Linked DNA regions of Homo sapiens: region 2 is linked to region 1. Evidence: fine-mapped expression QTL. A gene starts in region 1. The other region holds a variant in brackets. All regions are shown on one strand. Distances are between the middles of the regions.

Region 1 (9,174 bases):
AGTCCGTAAGGCAGAGGTTGCAGTGAGCCGAGACTGTACCACTGCACTCCAGCCTGGGTGATAGGGCCAGGTCTTGTCTCAAAAAAAATTTAAAAAGTAGTTTTAGGGGGCAAAAAACTGGGATCCCTTTTCTGACCAGGCTAAAGCTTCCTTCATTGACGCATGCAATTTTTTTTTTTTTGAGATGGAGTCGCACTCTGTCACCAAGGGTATAGTGCAATGGCGCAATCTTGGCTCACTGCAACCTCTGCCTCCCAGGCTCAAGTGATTCTCCTGCTTCAGCCTCCCAAGTAGCTGGGATTACAAGCGTCTGCCACCACGCCTGGCTAACTTTTGTATTTTTAGTAGAAACAGGGTTTCACCATGTTGGCCAGGCTGGTCTCAAACTCCTCAAGTGATCTGCCTGCCTCAGCCTCCCAAAGTGCTGGGATTACAGGCATGAGCCATCGCACCCAGCCAGACTCATGCAATTTTTAATGTATATTTAGTAATCATAATAACTGTGTTGGAAGGTTTAATAAAAGAAAGCATACTGAAATACTTTTCCTGGGGAAAGGCAATGACCACACATTTCTTAAAAAAATAAAATTGGTTATTTATACACAAGTTCCCCTACCTCCATCTCTTTAATCTTTGTACTGCTTGTGCCTAGCAAGAAATAGGTATTCTGTCAGGCACGGTAGCTCACACCTGTAATCCTAGCACTTTGGGAGGATCACTTGAGCCCAGGAGTTCAAGATTAGCCTGAGCAATACAGTGAGATCTCATCTCTACCAAAAAATTTTTCAAAAAATTAATGAGGTGTGGTGGCACGTGCCTGTGGTCCCAGGTACTCAGGAGGCTGAGGTAGGAGGCTTGCTTGAGCCCAGGAGGTTGAAGCTGCAGTGAGCTGTGATCACACCACTGCACTCCAGCCTCAATGACAAAGGGAGACTGTCGAAAGAAAGAAAGAAAAAGAAAGAAAGAAAGGAAGGAAGGAAAGAAGGAAGGAAGGAAAAAAATGGGTATTCAATTAAAGTTTGTTAAATAAAAACAGATTTTTTCTTCCTAATGCATGTTTTCTCTTCATTTTTCTTATCTGAAGTCTTCCCTTGGAATATAAGTAAGTCTTCCTCCTTCCCATTTAATATCTCATTGCCTGATTGTTTTTCAGTTTAAACAACAGGAGAATCCAATAACAAATATTTACCAATAGCTAAGAGTTACTGAAAGTGCCTTCTTAGTTATAAAAAGTTAATCCATTTTTAATGTAAGGCAAGAAGTTCACAATTAAACCTAAGAGGATAATTTACTATAGATAGACGTGAAGTACCTAAAAAGAAATGAATATCCAATCTACACCTATATAATGGCAAAAATTAGAACTAGAGTTTCAGAGTCAGAGGGGACATTAATGTCAGGTCGGCAGGTCTGGGCTCACATCCAATCCAAACCAAGCTTTGCTGAGTGTCCCTTCCCTCCACTTTCTCCTGAATCATTCCCCCTTGGGCTAGGAGTTTCCAAGAAGGCAAATAAACTAAGATAAGCAACAAGAGCAAAGAATGGCAACTCAAATGTGCAGTTCAAGGCTTTGAATACGAATTTTTTTTAACACTAATGAAAAAGGTAGTATCATAGCTCTTAAAATATTGAAATACTTCTCTCTGTCCAGTATCAGCAGATAATGCAGAAAAGCCCATTGGGAACATGTTCCTCTCCTTCAAATGCCACTTAGAAAGCTTCATCATTATTCATAAATGATGAATAGAAGTCTGGGCATGGCCGGGTGTGGTGGCTCATACCTGTAATCCCAGCGCTTTGGGAGGCTGAGGTGGGTGGATCGCCTAAGGTCAGGAGTTCGAGACCAGCCTGGCCAACATGGTGAAACCTCGTCTCTACTAAAAATACAAAAATTAGCTGGGTGCGGTGGCACGCACCTGTAATCCCAGCTACTCAGGAGGCTGAGGCAGGAGAATCGCTTGAACCTGGGAGGCGGAGGTTGCAGTGAGCTGAGATCGCGCCACTACACTCCAGCCTGGGTGACAGAGCAAGACTCCGTCTCAAAAAAAAAAAAAAAAAAAAAAGTAGTGTTTACAATATAAGGGAAATTGGGATCCCATGTTCTAATTCAAAGAATTTAAGGCTATTAACCATTTTAAAGTTCTCATGTTTAAGCTTCTCACTTTATCCTTCTTTATTCAAGAAAATCCATAATACAAAGTATTGGCAAAGATGTGAGGAACTGGAACTGCCATACACTGCTAGTGGGAGTGGAAATTGGTGTAACCACTGTGGAAAACCGTTTGACGGTATCTACCAAACCTGAACATATCCCTTCCCTATGATCCAGGAATTCTACTTGTGGGCATAATCCTTTATACTGGTGTTTATGTCCACCATATATAAAACAATGTTCACAGCAGTGCTATGCATAATTACACAAAATTGGAACAACTTCCATGTGCTTCGTGAACATAATGGATAAAATAAATTATAAGATCTATTCATACCACGGAATGGTACCAGCAATTAAAAAAAAAAACACTGCTACAGAGAACAAGGTTGAATCTTATTATTATAATGTTGAGTAAAAGAAGGTGGACATAAAAGAGCACACGATGATGGTTTGGTTTACATGAAGTTCAAACATAGGCAAAAGCAATCCATGGCATCAGAAGTCAGAATAGTGGCTACCTGGGGAGGGGGTACTGACAGAGAGGGTGGAGCTAGAATTGCTCTATATCTCAGTCTGATCGTGGTTATTTGGGCACGTACATATGTGAAAACTAATGAAATTGTACTCTTAAGATGTGTGCATATTTACTGTGTGCCAATTATACTTCATTTAGAAATATCTGGAGAGAGAGACATAGAAATTTCTGAATTCTTTCCTAAATAGAAAAGAATTCCATGCAGCTTAAATATCGTTGCAAGTATTGATGCTTATACCTTTAGAAAGCCCATTATGCTTCTGAAAAATGCACTTACTACTTAATATCATACATAATAGAAAGCTAACATTTTGTATTAACGGAATCTGGAAAACATATTGTACTACACATTTGAAATTACAGATTTACTAACTAGTAAAGATAACTATTTAAGAACTAAAATGTCTTTGTTTTTCAACTCTTTTCCCCCGATTTCCATTTTTTACTTTTTATATTTCAGAATTATTTGTAACAAAAGCTATTGGATATAATTCCTGCACTTCTATATTGCAAGCATTTTCTCTATTTACCACAGAGACTTCAAGTCCTAGCATTTCAGAGCTGAAGGGGACTCGGACGGACTCCCTCACTGCACAGATGAGGACGCGGAGGCCGGGGGAGGTGAGTGTCAGTCCCAAGGTTGCAGACCTAGGACAGGGACCGGAGCTGCCGGGCACCCAGAACTCTGTCGCCTTCAACCCAAATTCGATTCAGTCCTCTCATCTTTCCAAATAGAAAGCTGACGCGAACCGATGGGAAGATTTTTTTTTTCAATAACAACTATGCTACCCAGCAGATTCTTTGGGGACAGTCCTCGGAGTCCTTGAAAACCCCTTTGGGGTTTATGCCAGGATAAGAAGAGACTAGAAGAAAGGGACAGCTAGTATTTTAATATGTAAATCTGTTTGCATAATATTTCCTAGGTAAACTATTCGTTGATCCAACCAAAATTCGGCGGGGCTGGGGGGTATCGTTATTGAGGATGACTCGCTCTAGGGGAGAACGCGGACGCATTTTCCCATCAGAGTTCCCTCCATAAATCAAAACCTCAAAAGAAGAGTTAAAGACGACACCCAGGTGTCTACAGTATCCAAGGGCCGGGCCAGGAGAGGTCCTTGGCCACCTGGCGCCGAGTTCGCGGCCGCAGACTCCCACGGACGGCCCAGCACCCGAGCGCGCGGGCCGAGCTGCCCCAGACCCGGCGCAGCGCCTCGGCGAGGCCGTCTGCGAAGTCCGGGCCGCCACTCGGGACCGCGGCCCGAGCCAGAGGAGAGACTTCGGAGAAGAGGGAAGAGGACGCGGGGTGGGAAACGCCGGGGCCGCAGGCAAGTAGTGGGCGAGTCCGGAGGGCGCGAAAGAGGGGAGGGGCGCGGGAGGCAATGGAAGGAGCGAGCGCGGGGAGGAGCGAGGCGGCTGGGCCGGAGGAGGCGCGCGCCCGGGTCCACACTGCGGGGTGGGGGCTGAGGGACCGCGAGGGGCTGCGAGCGAGCGAGCGGGGCCTTACCGAGCAGCGGCAGCTGGCCGCCGTCGCGCGCCAACGCCGGCATGGCCTCCGGAGCCCGGGGTCCCCAGGCCGCGCCGGCCCAGCCCTGCGATGCCGCCTGGAGCGGCGCGCCTCGCGCTGCAGGTGGCTCTCTTAAGGATGCGCGTCACCGACCGCAAATTCCCTCGGACTGGTGCAAAGTGGAAGGGGGGAGGAACCCTCTCCCCAGAGGCAGGGACCGAGGCGGGAGCGGAGAGGTTGGGCAGAGCCGAGCAGCCGGTGCCTGGCGCAGCGCTGCAGCCGAGCCCACGTGCCCGCCGCGGTCCGCAGCCTGTGCTCGGCGGCCCCCGGGGCTCCCCGACTGCGGCGGGGAAGATTGGGCGCGGTCCCGCCGGAGAAGTTGCACTGGCTCCGCGGCTCTGCCGCCTTGCTGCCCCTGTGAGTCCCCGAACTCTGTCGTTTGGATCCGGGGCGTGGGGACTGCAGGGAGCCACAAACCACCCTCCTAGTGCGCTGGGATCTTTGAGGCCCTGAGAAAGGCGCTGAATCCGCTCGGCACGCTGGCAACTCCCGCCAGCGCACAGGCGAGCATTCCATTAAGAACCATTCCATTCTTAATTGTGGACTGATTTCCTTTGTCTCTGCCTCCATCTCCTAGGATGCTCAGGACCCAGTCAGCGGCGGGATCAAGAAAAACAGGCAGGGTTTCAATGTCAACCAAGGCAATTAGGGAGGTTAACAAACAGCCTTCAAAACAAAACACACAGAAAATACATCCCAGAGGATGTTGCGAATCATCCGCTCAATAGTTCTTGTTCTTCATCGCATAATTTTTCGAGTTGAAAATTATTATTATTTTCTTTGCAATAAGTTGAGGATTGGAAAGCTCTGGATGCCAGTTCTGGTTCTTCCCTTACTTAACTAGCCGTTTGACCTCCACAAACCTCTGTTTACTCATCGTAAAGGAAAGGGATGGACCAAATGGTTCATAATGTCTCTCCCAATTCTAGGAATTCCACGCTCTTAATTATTTTAATTATTTTCTAATAAAGCATGAAAATTGACTGTTTACTCTTGGCCATACAGTTCTTTTCCTTAGATGTTGTCTACAGTACAATAATTCTTTCCCCTAGGGTATGGCAGAAACTTTAGAAGTGTCTACCATGGTGCAGCCACTATGGAAAACACTATAGAGGTTTCTCAAAAAATTAAAAAAAATACGGTCCAACAATTCCATTTCTGGCCATGTAGCCAAAAGAATTGAAAGCAGGGTCTTGAAGAGATGTCTGTACACCCGTGTTGAAAGCAGCATTATTCACAGTAGTCAAAAGGCAGAAGTAACCCATGTCCACAACAGATGAATGATAAACAAAAATGCAGTATATACATACGACTGAGTATTTTTCAGCTTTAAAGAGGAGGGAAATTCTGATACAGCTAAAATATGGATGAATCTTGACATTATGCTAAGTGAAATAAGCTAGTCCCAAAAAATACAATACTGTATCCCATTACAAATTCATAAAGACAGAAAGTTAAATGGTGGTTACCATGGGCTGGGGGCAGGGGGAAATGGGGAGCCAGTGTTTAATGGATACAGAGTTTCAGTTTTGCAAGATGAGCAGAGTTCTGGAGACTGGTTGCACAACAATGTGAATGTACTTAACGCTACTAAACTGTACACTTAAAAATGGCTAAGGCTGGGTGCGGTGGCTCATGCCTGTAATCCTAGCACTTTGGGAGGCCGAGGTGGGCAGATCACCTGAGGTCAGCAGTTCGAGACCAGCCTAGCCAACATGGTGAAACCCCATCTCTACAAAAATGCAACAATTAGCCAGGCGTAGTGGCGCATGCCTGTAATCCCAGCTACCTGGGAGGTTGAGGCAGGAGAATCACTGGAACCCGGGAGGCAGAGGCTGCAGTGAGCTGAGATCACACCACTGCACTCCAGCCTGGGTGACAGAGTGAGACTCTGTCTCAAAAACAAAAACAAAAACAAAAAGTTAAGATGGTAAATTTTATGTATGTGTATTTTACCTCAATTTTAAATTTTTTAAGTTTTTGTGTAGCTGCTGGGGGTTTAAAAATTTTTTTAAAGAGTGTTGTGTCTACCTTAGGTCAGAAACAGAAGTGAAGGAAGATGGCCTGAAATAAGTGAAACATGAGGAGATAAAGCAATGAAACAGGCTGGTTATGGGGAGAAAAGCGAGCTTCCAATGGCCAAGACCTAACACACTACCTTCTATTTAAAGCTCAATTACTGTCTTAAAGGAAACTGATTGGCTGGGCGCTGTGGCTCATGCCTGCAATCCCAGCGCTTTGGGAGGCCAAAGCGGGTGGATCATTTGAGGTCAGGAGTTGGAGACCAGCCTGACCAACATGGTGAAACCCCATCTCTAACAAAAATACAAAAATTAGCTGGGCATGGTGGCACTGTAGTCGTAGCTACTTGGGAGGCTGAGGCAGGGGAATTGCTTGAACCCAGGAAGCAGATGTTGCAGTGAACTGAGATCATGCCACTGCACTCCAGCCTGGGCAACAGAGCAAGACTTGGTCTTCGCCGGGCGTAGTGGCTCATGCCTGTAATCCCAGCACTTTGGGAAGCTAAGGCAGGTGGATCACGAGGTCAGGAGTTCAAGACCAGCCTGGCAAAGATGGTGAAACCTGTCTCTACTAAAAATACAAAAAATTAGCCAGGCGTGGTGGCATACGCCTGTAATCCCAGCTACTCAGGAGGCTGAGGCAGAGAATTGCTTAAACTTGGGGAGCGGAGGTTGCAGTGAGCCAAGATCGCGCCACTACACTCCAGCCTGGGCGACAGAGGGAGATTCCGTCTCAAAAAAATAAATAAATAAAATGAAAAACTAAAAAAAAAATGAAACTGATTATTACAAATTTGCAGAACATCAGCTTGAGTGCAGCAGTATTCAGGATACAAAATCATAAAGATACTGCTGCTTTGTCCAAGAATCTTGGACACAAGGCAGAGATCTTCATGAAAAAGGGGGTTGGTGAGAGAGGAGAAGTTAGGAATGGTTTCTTTTTTTGAGACAGAGTCTTGCTCTGTCGCCCAGGCTAGAGTGCAGTGGCACGATCTAGGCTCACTACAACCTCCGCCTCCCGGGTTCAAGCGATTCTCCAGCCTCAGCCACCTGAGTAGCTGGGATTACAGGCACCCGCCACTGCGCCCAGCTAATTTTGTATTTTTAGTAGAGAAGGGTTTCACCATCTTGGCCAGGCTGGTCTCAAACTCCTGACCTCGTGATCCACCCTCCTTGGACTCCCAAAGTGCTGGGATTACAGGTGTGAGTCACCGCGGCCAGCCAGGAATGGTTTCTAGGAACACTTGATTTTCCGTGGAAATTGGTGGAAAAAATAATTCTAGAAGGAGCAAATCTTATAGACTGAAATATTTTGGAGTATGAGGTATAGGCTAACAGAAGGTGAAGTAATGCCCATGTTTTTCTGTGATGTGCCAAGAGTCATATCTAATATGAGAACTAATTTCTTCCTCACAGCAACACTTAAGGAAAGTAGCCTGAAATTGTCTAGAGTCCTGGATTACACGCCCAGGTATGCATGCCCAAGTATGAAATTTTGGTGTCAGAGTTCATGATAGGAATTCTGTAATAAAGAAACTCTTAAAGGGTCAAAAGCAACTAGAAGAAATGAGCTGAAACGGGAAATCGGAAAAGAGAAGAGTAAGTTTGTTTCTGGGTTGAATGGAGTGTCTAGTGCTAACTCTACGAAAGGATGTATTTTATCTAGATTCTTAGCACCATGATGCTTAGCCATGAGTAAGTGGTCATCTATCTTACCAGCATCTTGATACCATGTTTCCACCCCTTAAGTCACACAAATATCTCCTCTCCCTTTCCTCTCTCTCTCCAAAAATTGTGACATAGTTTCGTAGCAGCTCACAGGTGAAATACTTTCATGTCATTTTTAACTTACAAAGCCTTATGTTTTCCTGAAAATCAGGGACAAACAAAAGGAATATTTGAATAGGGTTCATGTGAGTTCAGTTGAGATATCAACTTTATAGTATAATTTTACACATCTTTTATTAATAGGGGCTTTGAACTCACCAATTGGCAAAATCTGACAATACAAAGTGTTGACAAGAATTCAGAGCAATGGAGAACACCCACACACTGTTGGTGGACATCCCAATGGGTGTGAGCACTTTGAAAAATAATTTGGCATATCTTACTAAAGTTGAACATATCCTCCAGCCAGCAGTTTCACCCCCAGATATAAACCTCAAAGAAACACATATGTGCCAAGAGACAAGTATAAGAATGTTCATAGCATTATTGTTTATAATATCAAAAAATTGGGAACAATCTAAATGCCCACCAACAAAAGGATAAATTGCAGTACAGTCATAATAAAATACCTATATATTAAATAACAGTGTAAATGAATGAGCTACAGTTACCTGACACACCATGAATGAATCTCAAAAACATAATGTTGAGGGGGAAAAGCAAGTCATGGAATAATAGACATAAAGGCGGAAGCAAACAATATTCTCCTTAGGAATACATTCATAGGGGTATAAGGAAAGTAAAGGAATAATTACCACAAAAGTCAGGATTGTGGTTACGTCTGGTATGGGGTGGGAAGAGGAGGTTTAATTAGAGAAGACAAACTGGGGATTTCTGAGGTGCTAACATACCCTATTGTTGTTTTGCGATAGGGTCTTGCTACACTGCCCAAGCTGGAGTGTAATGGCTATTCACAGGCACGACCATAGCTCACTGCAGCCTTGAACTCCTGGGCTCAAGCCTCTGGGTAGCTGGGACTACAGGTGTGGACCACCATGTCCAACCACACCCTATTTTTTTTTAACCTCTGTGGTGGGTGCTGGATGTTCATTTTATTGTTATTCTTTAAACTATGTAATTATTTTTACACACTGCTGTGAATATGATGTATTTCACAACAAAAGAAAATTAAAGGCCGGGTGCGGTGGCTCATGCCTGTAATCACAGTATT
Region 2 (9,174 bases), 74 kb before region 1:
CTGCACTCCAGCCTGGGCAACAGAGCGAGACTGTCTCCAAAAACAAAACAAAACAAAACAAAAAAATACAATTGAAAGTAGTCTTTCCAAATTCAGAGAGAAAACAGGAGAGAAGAGGCAAGGGGAAGGAAGTGGAGGAGAAGAGGAGGAGGAGATTAGAAGACTGCAAGAAAAATGAGGGGGAAGAATTTTGGGAAATAAAGAGAAGGTAATGAAAGGCAAGCAAACGAGGAAGGAAGGTAGCCAGAGAGTGGGCTATGATCTGCTTATAGGCAGGAGACATTTGAAATCACAGAGAACAGCGGGTGGAAAGGCAGTTCAAAAAGAGTGCAAAATTGGGGTAGAGACATGGTTCACGGCAGGCTCCAGGGCCTTACCAACGAATGGATCTGGGGTTAGCAACAGAGGAGGCAGTGAGCCTGCAGGACTGCTGCCAGCCCACAGCACGCAGGGTGAGAATTAGACAAAGACACTCAGGGTGGCTGGCTCGGTTTCAGCCTCCTCTCATCCCCTGGGTTGAATGCCCACATGCAGGGCACAACCTGAACAGCCGTTCTGAAAGGGACTGACAATGCTACGCTTTGTTTTGAGGAAGGATTTCTGAGGACTTCCTATCTCGACCTTCAGCCTTGGAAGTTTCAGGGGACTTTGTGCAGCCTGGGAGGGCTGTGCTAGCCGTGACCTCACAAGGGATCCCAGGCCTTTATGCTACTACAATTAGCCAAGAGCCAAGGTAACACGCTAGGTGACTCCAACAGTGAACAGGGGAGAAAAGGCAGACTTTAAGGGATACAAGTTAAAATAAACAAGAAAACATATATAAGCACATCTTTTCAAATCTTTTTTTTGGTTTGTTTTTTCTTTAAAAGGAGCATACCGACTTAAATTCCAGAAATTCCATTCCTTTGGCAACTTGATATGCAAAGCAAAGAAGATCTTCAAATGTAAGCACATTCAAGTCCTCCTCTTCTTCCAGCCTTTTTTGGTTTTCATATTCAATTTCATCTGTAAAATAGAGCCAGTCTTCACTTTTGCCAAAACTCTAAGAAGTTGCCTTATTAAATCTCTATGGGAAGGTTATTCAAGCCAGAGTTAGGTGAGGTGCTAAGACATGAAGCTATCGCATTATCTTCCCGGCAGCATTAGAGATGACCTGTTTATGCTGCCTATGAAGGGTCACTGGAGACTTGTTTTGGTTAGAGATAAACTTTGGAACTGCTTTGATGACCGATGACCTCCTGATTGATTAGTCAGGAGTTTTAGATACTTCTCTTTTGCACTAGGTAGGGCTGTCACAGTGGGAAAGGAATTAATATTAATTGTCTATCCCTTTTTTTTTTGAGAAGGAGTCTCGCTCTGTCGCCCAGGCTGGAGTGCAGTGACACGATCTTGGCCTGCTGCAACTGGATTCTCCTGCCTCAGCTTCCCGAGTAGCTGGGACTACAGGCTCATGCTAATTTTTTGTATTTTTAGTAGAGAAGGGTTTCACCGTGTTAGCCAGGATGGTCTTGATCTCCTGACCTCGTGATCCACCCACCTGAGCCTCCCAAAGTGGTGGGATTACAGGCATGAGCCACTGTGCCCGGCCCATCTATCCTATTTTATAAACTATATTGTGCATTTTATATTCTTCCATTTACTCCTTCCTTTTTTTTTCTTTCTTTCTTTTTTTTTTTTGAGTTGAAGTCTCACTCTGTTGCCCAGGTTGGAATGCAGTGGTGCAATCTCAGCTCACTGCAACCTCTGCCTCTTGGGTTCAAGCAATCCTCCTGCCTCAGCCTCCCAAGTAGCTGGGATTGCAGGCGTGCACCACCATACCCAGCTAATTTTTGTATTTTTAGTAGAGACAAGGTTTCTCCATGTTGGGCCAGGCTGGTCTTGAACTCCTGACCTCAGGTGACCTGCCTGCCTCGGCCTCCCAAGGCGTGATTACAGGCGTGAGCCACCACGGCCAGCCCCTCATTTACTCCTTCTAACAGTCCTGTGAGGAAGGTAGTGTTAGGCCTATTTTATAAACAAGAAAATTGTGATTCTGGTGGTCACATAACTTGTCCAAAGTCATCCAGTCAGAAAGCAAAGTAAGCAGAAGTTAATCCAAATTCTATGTAACTTCGGAACTCATTATCTCTTCCACTTGTCAGGTAATAAGATGGCTGTAATTAATATATGACTTTAAATGAATAATCTGACCAAATAAAATAGTCCTCAGTGTTTATTAGTTGAATGTTGACATAAAATCTACAGTATACAAACTGGCTTTTAGCTATCATCTGACAATTAGCAAATTTTAAAATGCTTTTGTGTTTACACACTTTTAAAAAATAGCTAACATAAAACTTTTGCATTCATTTCCATTTTAAAGTGCTACTACTTAGAATAAAATATTACCTTCAGAGTGAAATGAATTCCCATGAAGCCCTGAGATTTGATCCGAGTCCGGGTGTATCTGAACTTCTCTTGAACCAGGCATGCTATTAAAAAATTTTGTTTTTTCATTATTTACATTATTCTTCTCAGCAGACATTTTATTTTAAAAATGTAATTCATCAAATAAATGGATTCCAGTTATAAATTGACTTTTAAATTAAAAGCACACCATCCATTTGTCCATTTTTTGTGTACATTAAAAACATCTGTGTAACTGGGCTTGCCAGTCTAAGATAAAAGTAATCCCTGTTTTCCATATAGAATCTTACAGTTCAAAAAGGACCTCACTCAATCCTTGCCACAACCTATGAGATGGGTGGCATTTTATAAAAGAGAAATTAGGCACAGTGAGATAAATATGATTCGAGTGGAACCAGGACTCACATCGATCTCATTCTTTGGTTTCTGAACTCAGCCCACTTTCCCTCACATAATACAGATCTTCCCGAGAGTCCCGTAAGCGTTTCACCATCCTTCTTTTTTCCAGTTTGCCTTTGTAAAGCTCATTTCTTTTTACTGTGAAATTAATAAATAGCAATAATACAAATCTCTTTTAAGGTATATAAAAATTCTTCCCTGAGGAGCTCTGTAGGAATTATAAGTAGATCACGATTCAATTTATTCTAATATACGAGTTTAACCCAATTTACAATTTACATATCTTTAGGAAATGGCTTCATGCTTTCAGACCACAAATATTCCAAAAGGAATAATTTCAGTGTATTTAATATTCCAGTGAACAGAACGAATCAAAGGGGCTAAGTACTGACCAGTGGATACTGGTCACACACATCGGACTCAGTAGGATAGCCCCTCTGTTCCAGAATATGAGTGGCTTTATAGAGTTCTCATTTCTAGACGATGAGCTGGGAAATGAGTGTAAAGGAGAGGACGGTGTGACGGGCATGCATAGGTTAAGGGCAGCTGCACACGGACGTGCATGGGGATCTCCGTGGGGCCTGGTGGCTTTAAGACACTGGGTCTGTGTCTCAGACCTGGAAGGCCAGAGGCCTGCACTTAAAACTTACATTCTAAGAAAACAAAGCCGGGACTCTCAAATGTATCCCTAAAAAGCCCCTGGTAAAGAAAAAAGTCTCCAATAAACAAATACCCTTCAGAATAAGGGAGAACTTCCATACAGGGAGGGAAATAAGAACGCGCCAAGGCTCAGCCAGGTGCGGTGGCTCATGCCTATAATTCCAGCACTTTGCGGGGCCTAGGTGGGTGGATCAACTGAGGTCAGGAGTTCAACACCAGCCTGACCAACATGGTGAAACCCTGTCTCCACTAAAAATACAAAATTAGCTGGGCGTGGTGGCACATGCCTGTAATCTCAGCTACTCGGGAGGCTGAGGCAAGAGAATCGCTTGAACCTGGGATGTGGAGGTTGCAGTGAGCCGAGATCACACCATTGCACCACTCCAGCCTAGGCAACAGAGCGAAACTCTGTCTGAAAAAAAAAAAAAAAAAAAAAAGAATGCTCCAAGGCTCAACGAATGCCTCCATCAGAATGCCTGGGAATCCATTCAGAGAAAGGTGCTACAAAGCCATGATGCTCAAGTAATTAGCAAGAAAGTTCAAGGATGAGGAGGAGATCCAGCAAACTCCTACAGCCCTCATTTATGCCCGCTAAAGCAATAAATCCCTGCAGGACCAAGCATCTCTCAGGATCCCCATGGATGCGGAGGATAAACACAGAGCAGAGACAAGGTTACTGCTACTTTACTGTGTCCCCATCACGTGTCGATCAATCCATCCTAATATCTTAGAATCCAATTTGAGTTCAGCGTTCTTTTGCGCAATAGTCCCAGGACCCGAGCTGCTCTCTTTGCATATGTTAAGGACTTTGGAAAAAGTCTTCATTCTTTCTACCAATACCTGTGAGGCAACCAGGTGTCCTGAAAGACCGAATAATGCACCTTTCCCCAAACCAAATAGGCGTCTATGGTGTGATGCAGGCATGGGTGGAGAGAGACTAGCTCAGCTATAGTACCTGTACTGAAGGAAAGGGACAGGACTCGTTCCATGTCAACAGGGAAACTATAGCAAAGATTCAGGAAATCTCTAGGTTGCAGGACCCACAGACTTCACGGTGCCTTTAGAAACTGGTCAACGAAGTGTGTTTGAACAGCACACTTTGCCTACGTTCTATGATGTGTAATTACGAAACCCTGACCCAGCCTCTTACCTGGAATTTGGATGTGATTGGAAAGTGGGGTAAAAACTGAAATTGTGTTCCTTGAAAATCTCTGTCCAAGTCCTGTGAAATTTTTCTCTTTTACTTCTTAGATAGTTGAGAAGATCACCATAGCAACAGTATTCAAAAATCAAGTAAATTGGTCCTGAAATAGTTACAGTTTCAATTATAGGCATACACAAAGCAAACTGTTATTTCAGAAGTCTATGTAGCAGACAACATACTCTTAGGAGGGCTTGGTTCTCTGCTGACTTGGGGACAGTACAACTTTTTCTGAGCCTAGCTCTTCTTATACTTTAAATTCAGTTTCAGCTTTTGCTCAAATTTCTTTGGAAAGCAGCATCTTCTTGACATTCTCTGTGGCCCTTTTTTGTATGTGTGGCCTCACCAATACCACTGGCCTCCTGGATTCTCCAGTTGGCAACTGAAAGTAATGTTCTAGCTGTGTATTATAGGTGAACACTTGGTAACTATATGCTGATTTGCTGTTTGCTTGAGGAGGGAGAAATATATTCCCAGTCCTCTCTCAGATTCACTTTCCTCTTTTTCCTTTCTTTTAGTACCAGCCCCAGGCCTGCTGCTGCAGAAAGAATGAACCTTGGGCACATCATTTGGGTATTTCTAGGCAGAAGAGAGAAGATCAGAGGGCATGCCCCAGAGAATTCTGGGAAAGTAAAGTCTGATATCCTAGCTAGGCTGTGCCGTATTTGACGGCAGCCCAACTGGGGCAGTGGCCAGGCTCTGTAACCACTCTCACCAC[G/A]CCTGTGCACCAGCTTCCAAGCTGGGAGAGAAGCACAGACACCACCAAATGTACTTGCAATGTTGTTGTTGTTGTTGTTTTTAAGCAGGTGAGAATTATGCAATATATCACGATAAAGCAGATGAATGAGGCATTCTTTATTTTGACCCCTCTGATTTATAGAGTGCTCAGTGTCTAATTCCACTTGGGTTTGAGAGTTCACACTGTGACTGAGAAAAGACAAAGAATTAAAAAGAGAGAGAGAGAGAGAGAGAGCAAACATCCTCTTTGTCATCAAGCTACAGTCTTTTTGATGAGGTGATTTTCGTGGAAGTGGGTTACCTGACAGTGTGCACGCCCCCAGCAGGTTCACAATATTCTCGTGGCTTCCCAGCTGGGTCATCATCTTGAGTTCTGACATGAGTGCCTCTCTTTCAGAGCTGTCTGCTTTTTCTGTCAAAGAAAGGAGCATTAAAAATGTAAAACTCAAGTAAAATACGAATTTTATGTCATTAAATAAAATTTTTCTCAGCTCAGAGTCAATCTGCATTATTTATTTAAATTCAAAATTATGAGAGAAGCCAGGCATGGTGGGTCATGCCTGTAATCCCAGCACTTTGGGAGGCCGAGGTGGGTGGATCACTTGAGGTCAGAAGTTCAAGACTGGCCTGGCCAATATGGTGAAACCTCGTCTCTACTAAAAATACAAAAATTAGCCAGGCGTGGTGGCAGGCACCTGTAATCCCAGCTACTTGGGAGGATGAGGCAGGAGAATCGCTTGAATGTGGGAGGCAGAGGTTGCAATTAGCTGAGACTGCACCATTGCACTCCAGCCTGGGCAACAAGAGTGAAACTCCATCTTAAAATAAATAAATAAATAAACAAACAAACAATATCCTGTGTTTTAAGACAGAATTTCTCCTTTTTCTTTTTTTTTTTTCCTTTTCTTTCTTTCTTTTTTTTTGACACAGTATCTCACTCTGTCACCCAGGCTGGAGTGTAGTGACATGATCTCAGCTTACTGTAGCCTCTGCCTCCTGGGCTCAAGTGATCCTCCTACCTCAGCCCTCCAAGTTACTGGTACTACAAGCACAGGCCATCATGCCCAGCTAATTTTTATATTTTTTGTAGAGATGGGGTCTCACCATGTTGCCCAGGCTGGTCTTGAACTCCTAGATTCAAGCAATCCTCCCAACTCCGCCTCCCAAAGTGCTGGGAATACAGGCATGAGCCACCATGCCCAGCCTAAGGCAGAATTCAGACTGTAGTATAGGGCTGGGCGCAGTGGCTCACACCTGTAATCCCAACACTTTGGGAGGCCAAGGCGGGTGGATCACTTAAGGTCAGGAGTTGAAGACCAACCTGGCCAACATGGTGAAACCCTGTCTCTACTAAACATACAAAAAATTAGCCGGGCGTGCCGGTGCGTACCTGTAATTCCAGCTACTCAGGAGGATGAGGCAAAAGAATCCCTTGAACTGGGGAGGCAGAGGTTGCAGTGAGCCGAGATTGAGCCCCTGCACCACTCCAGCCTGGGTGACAGAGCGAGACTCTGTCTCAAAAACAAAACAAAACAAAACAAAACAAAGACTATAGTATAAATGTTGAATCTGGTAATGCACCTTTCAACAGGACTTTCCTCTACCTACCAAAATAAAAATCCTTACAGTTGGCCCTCAAAACAAACAAACAAAATAATAACACATGCTTTTCCTCCTCAGTACAAGTTAACAGAAGGGAGAAACGTCCTTTTTGTTTGTTTGTTTGAACTCTTGGATCTGTTGTAGTCAGAGAGAGATAACAGTGTCGTGAGCATGGTTGACTCTAGCCTGTGGCCCTCAGGTCTAGAACATTAGATTTGCCAGCAAGTCCAATGGGAGAAGGTCAAAGAGGACTAATTCCCACTATCAGGTGCTCAAGAGACCCATTAATTGACATTGAGAAATAAAACTGCCAAGCAGGCTAGAACATATTGGTTGGCCAATGCATTCTCTCTCTAGGGAAAATTCCAGATAGCTCAGCAAACTGTACTTATAAGCTGACTTAGAAGCACAGTGTGAGGAAAGTCACTATGGAATCCAAGGGCTCCCGTCATTGCGGCTCATGTGCAGTTGGTCAGGGCAGCCCGGGCAGCCACAGGGGCAAGGGCAGGGTCTCTGGACTTCCCTCTCCAGGCTCCAGGCACCACCCCTCTGTGAACAGACTTTTTCTTCCAGATATAGTAACTCTTCTTTACATTCAGTGAAGATTTGGTTCGATTGCCAGGTTCCATTATTTTGTCCAGGAAGGCATCCTAACCTTTATAGTGGCTTCTCCGGTGCTGACATCCTCTATTTTGGTTTGGGCAAGCTCTCAGGGGTATCCTTGTTTCCAAGATTTTAGCTTGGGGGTGGGATTTCCTGTGGGCACTGGGACCCCCTAATACATCATGTCTTCAGCTTCACGCTGGACAGGGATTCGGGGCTTTACTTGTTCATGTCCTATTCCTCATGGCTAAAATAATATCTTACATTTTTTAGCATGCTTAGCTTCTTCTAAGCATTTTCATGTACCATTACCTCTTTCATTCAGTCATTCAACAAGTATTTATTGAGTGCCTACTCTGTAAGAGCCAATGTCCTAGACACTGGGGAATGAAGGAAAAACAAGACACAACCCTTGTCTTCCTGGATCTTAGAGTCTCCTGGAGAAGGCAGAGAAGTAAATAAGCCATGACAATACAGTGCCATAAATGCAATACGGCAGGCAAGACGTGGGTCCCCGCGCCTCTAATCCCAACATCTTGGGAGGCTGAGACAAGCGGGAGAATTGCTGGTACCCAGAAGTTCAAGAAAGGCCCGGGCAAAATAGCAAGAGCTTGTCTCTACTTAAAAATAAAATAAAGTAAAAATACATAAATAAATAAAATAAAATAAAATAAAAATTAGCTGGGCTTGGTGGTGCCTGCATGTAGTTCCAGTTACTGGAAAGGCTGCAGACCATCACTTGAGCCCAGGACTTGAAGCTTGCCGTGAGCTATGATGACTTCACTGCACTCCAGCCTGGGTGACAGAGTGAGACCCTATCTCAAAAAAAGAAAAAAGAAAGAAAAAGAAAAAATGCAACGTTGGGCTGGGCACGGTGGCTCATGCCTGTAATCCCAGCACTTTGGGAGGCTGAGACAGGCGGATCACGAGGTCAGGAGATCAAGACCATCCTGGCTAACACGGTGAAACTCTGTCTCTACTAAAAATACAAAAAAATTTAGCCGGGCGTGGTGGTGGGTGCCTGTAGTCCCAGCTGCTAGGGAGGCTGAGGCAGGAGAATGGCGTGAACCCAGGAGGCGGAGCTTACAGTGAGCTGAGATGGTGCCACTGCACTCCAGCCTGGGCGACAGAGTGAGACTCCGTCTCAAAAAAAGAAGAAAAAATGCAACGTGGCAAAGGAGTGCAGGGGTACTGTAGGGTCAAAAGGGATAGCTACCTTAGCCTTGGAGGGGTGGAGAAAGGAGCATTCAATGTCTAAACTGAGTCCTGAAGAAAAATGGGAGCTGGCCAGGTGACTCATGGTGGAAGGGGAGGAGAACAGTGCTGAGGGTTGTGAAAGAGTGGGCAAAGGTCGAGAAAGGAGAGAGCACAGCACCACAGACACAGACCCTGCCCTCATGAGGCACAGGGGCTACTGGACAGATGGGACAACAATTGGATGTTAAAAAATGTCATGACAAAGGTGATGGATTCTACGGGGGAAAGCCTGCAGAGAGCTAATGTCGCACATTGCAAGGGCCTCAATATTGTCTGTGGTGTGAGACAGAGGAAGTGGTGTTTAAGCT

Direction of the effects. Positions count from the first base shown, and alleles are read on the strand shown. Sizes are in standard deviations (SD) of each study's normalised expression.
For the expression in cerebellar hemisphere of the gene that starts at base 4,303 in region 1, A is the high allele of the variant in region 2 and G is the other (large effect, 1.1 SD a copy in GTEx).

The links. PIP is the estimated chance that this variant, and not a neighbour inherited with it, causes the effect. A credible set is the group of variants that fine-mapping cannot tell apart.
Region 2: its variant is the best candidate, but not a certain one, in a credible set for the expression of FLT3 in cerebellar hemisphere (GTEx, PIP 0.90).

The regions. Positions count from the first base shown.
Region 1 is chr13:28,096,274-28,105,447 of GRCh38, forward strand. It overlaps FLT3 (fms related receptor tyrosine kinase 3), which reads right to left and starts at 4,303. Exons shown (of 24, transcript NM_004119.3): 1 at 4,195-4,303. The coding sequence starts at 4,237. RefSeq lists silencers at 4,137-4,296, 4,417-4,476 and an enhancer at 4,587-4,716.
Region 2 is chr13:28,022,473-28,031,646 of GRCh38, forward strand. It overlaps FLT3 (fms related receptor tyrosine kinase 3), which reads right to left. Exons shown (of 24, transcript NM_004119.3): 16 at 5,706-5,816; 17 at 4,616-4,769; 18 at 2,389-2,471; 19 at 878-1,005. Among named protein-coding and RNA genes, the nearest start is that of URAD, 38 kb to the left of the region's middle. RefSeq lists enhancers at 1-466, 467-999. The variant G/A (reference allele first, on the strand shown) is at 5,385.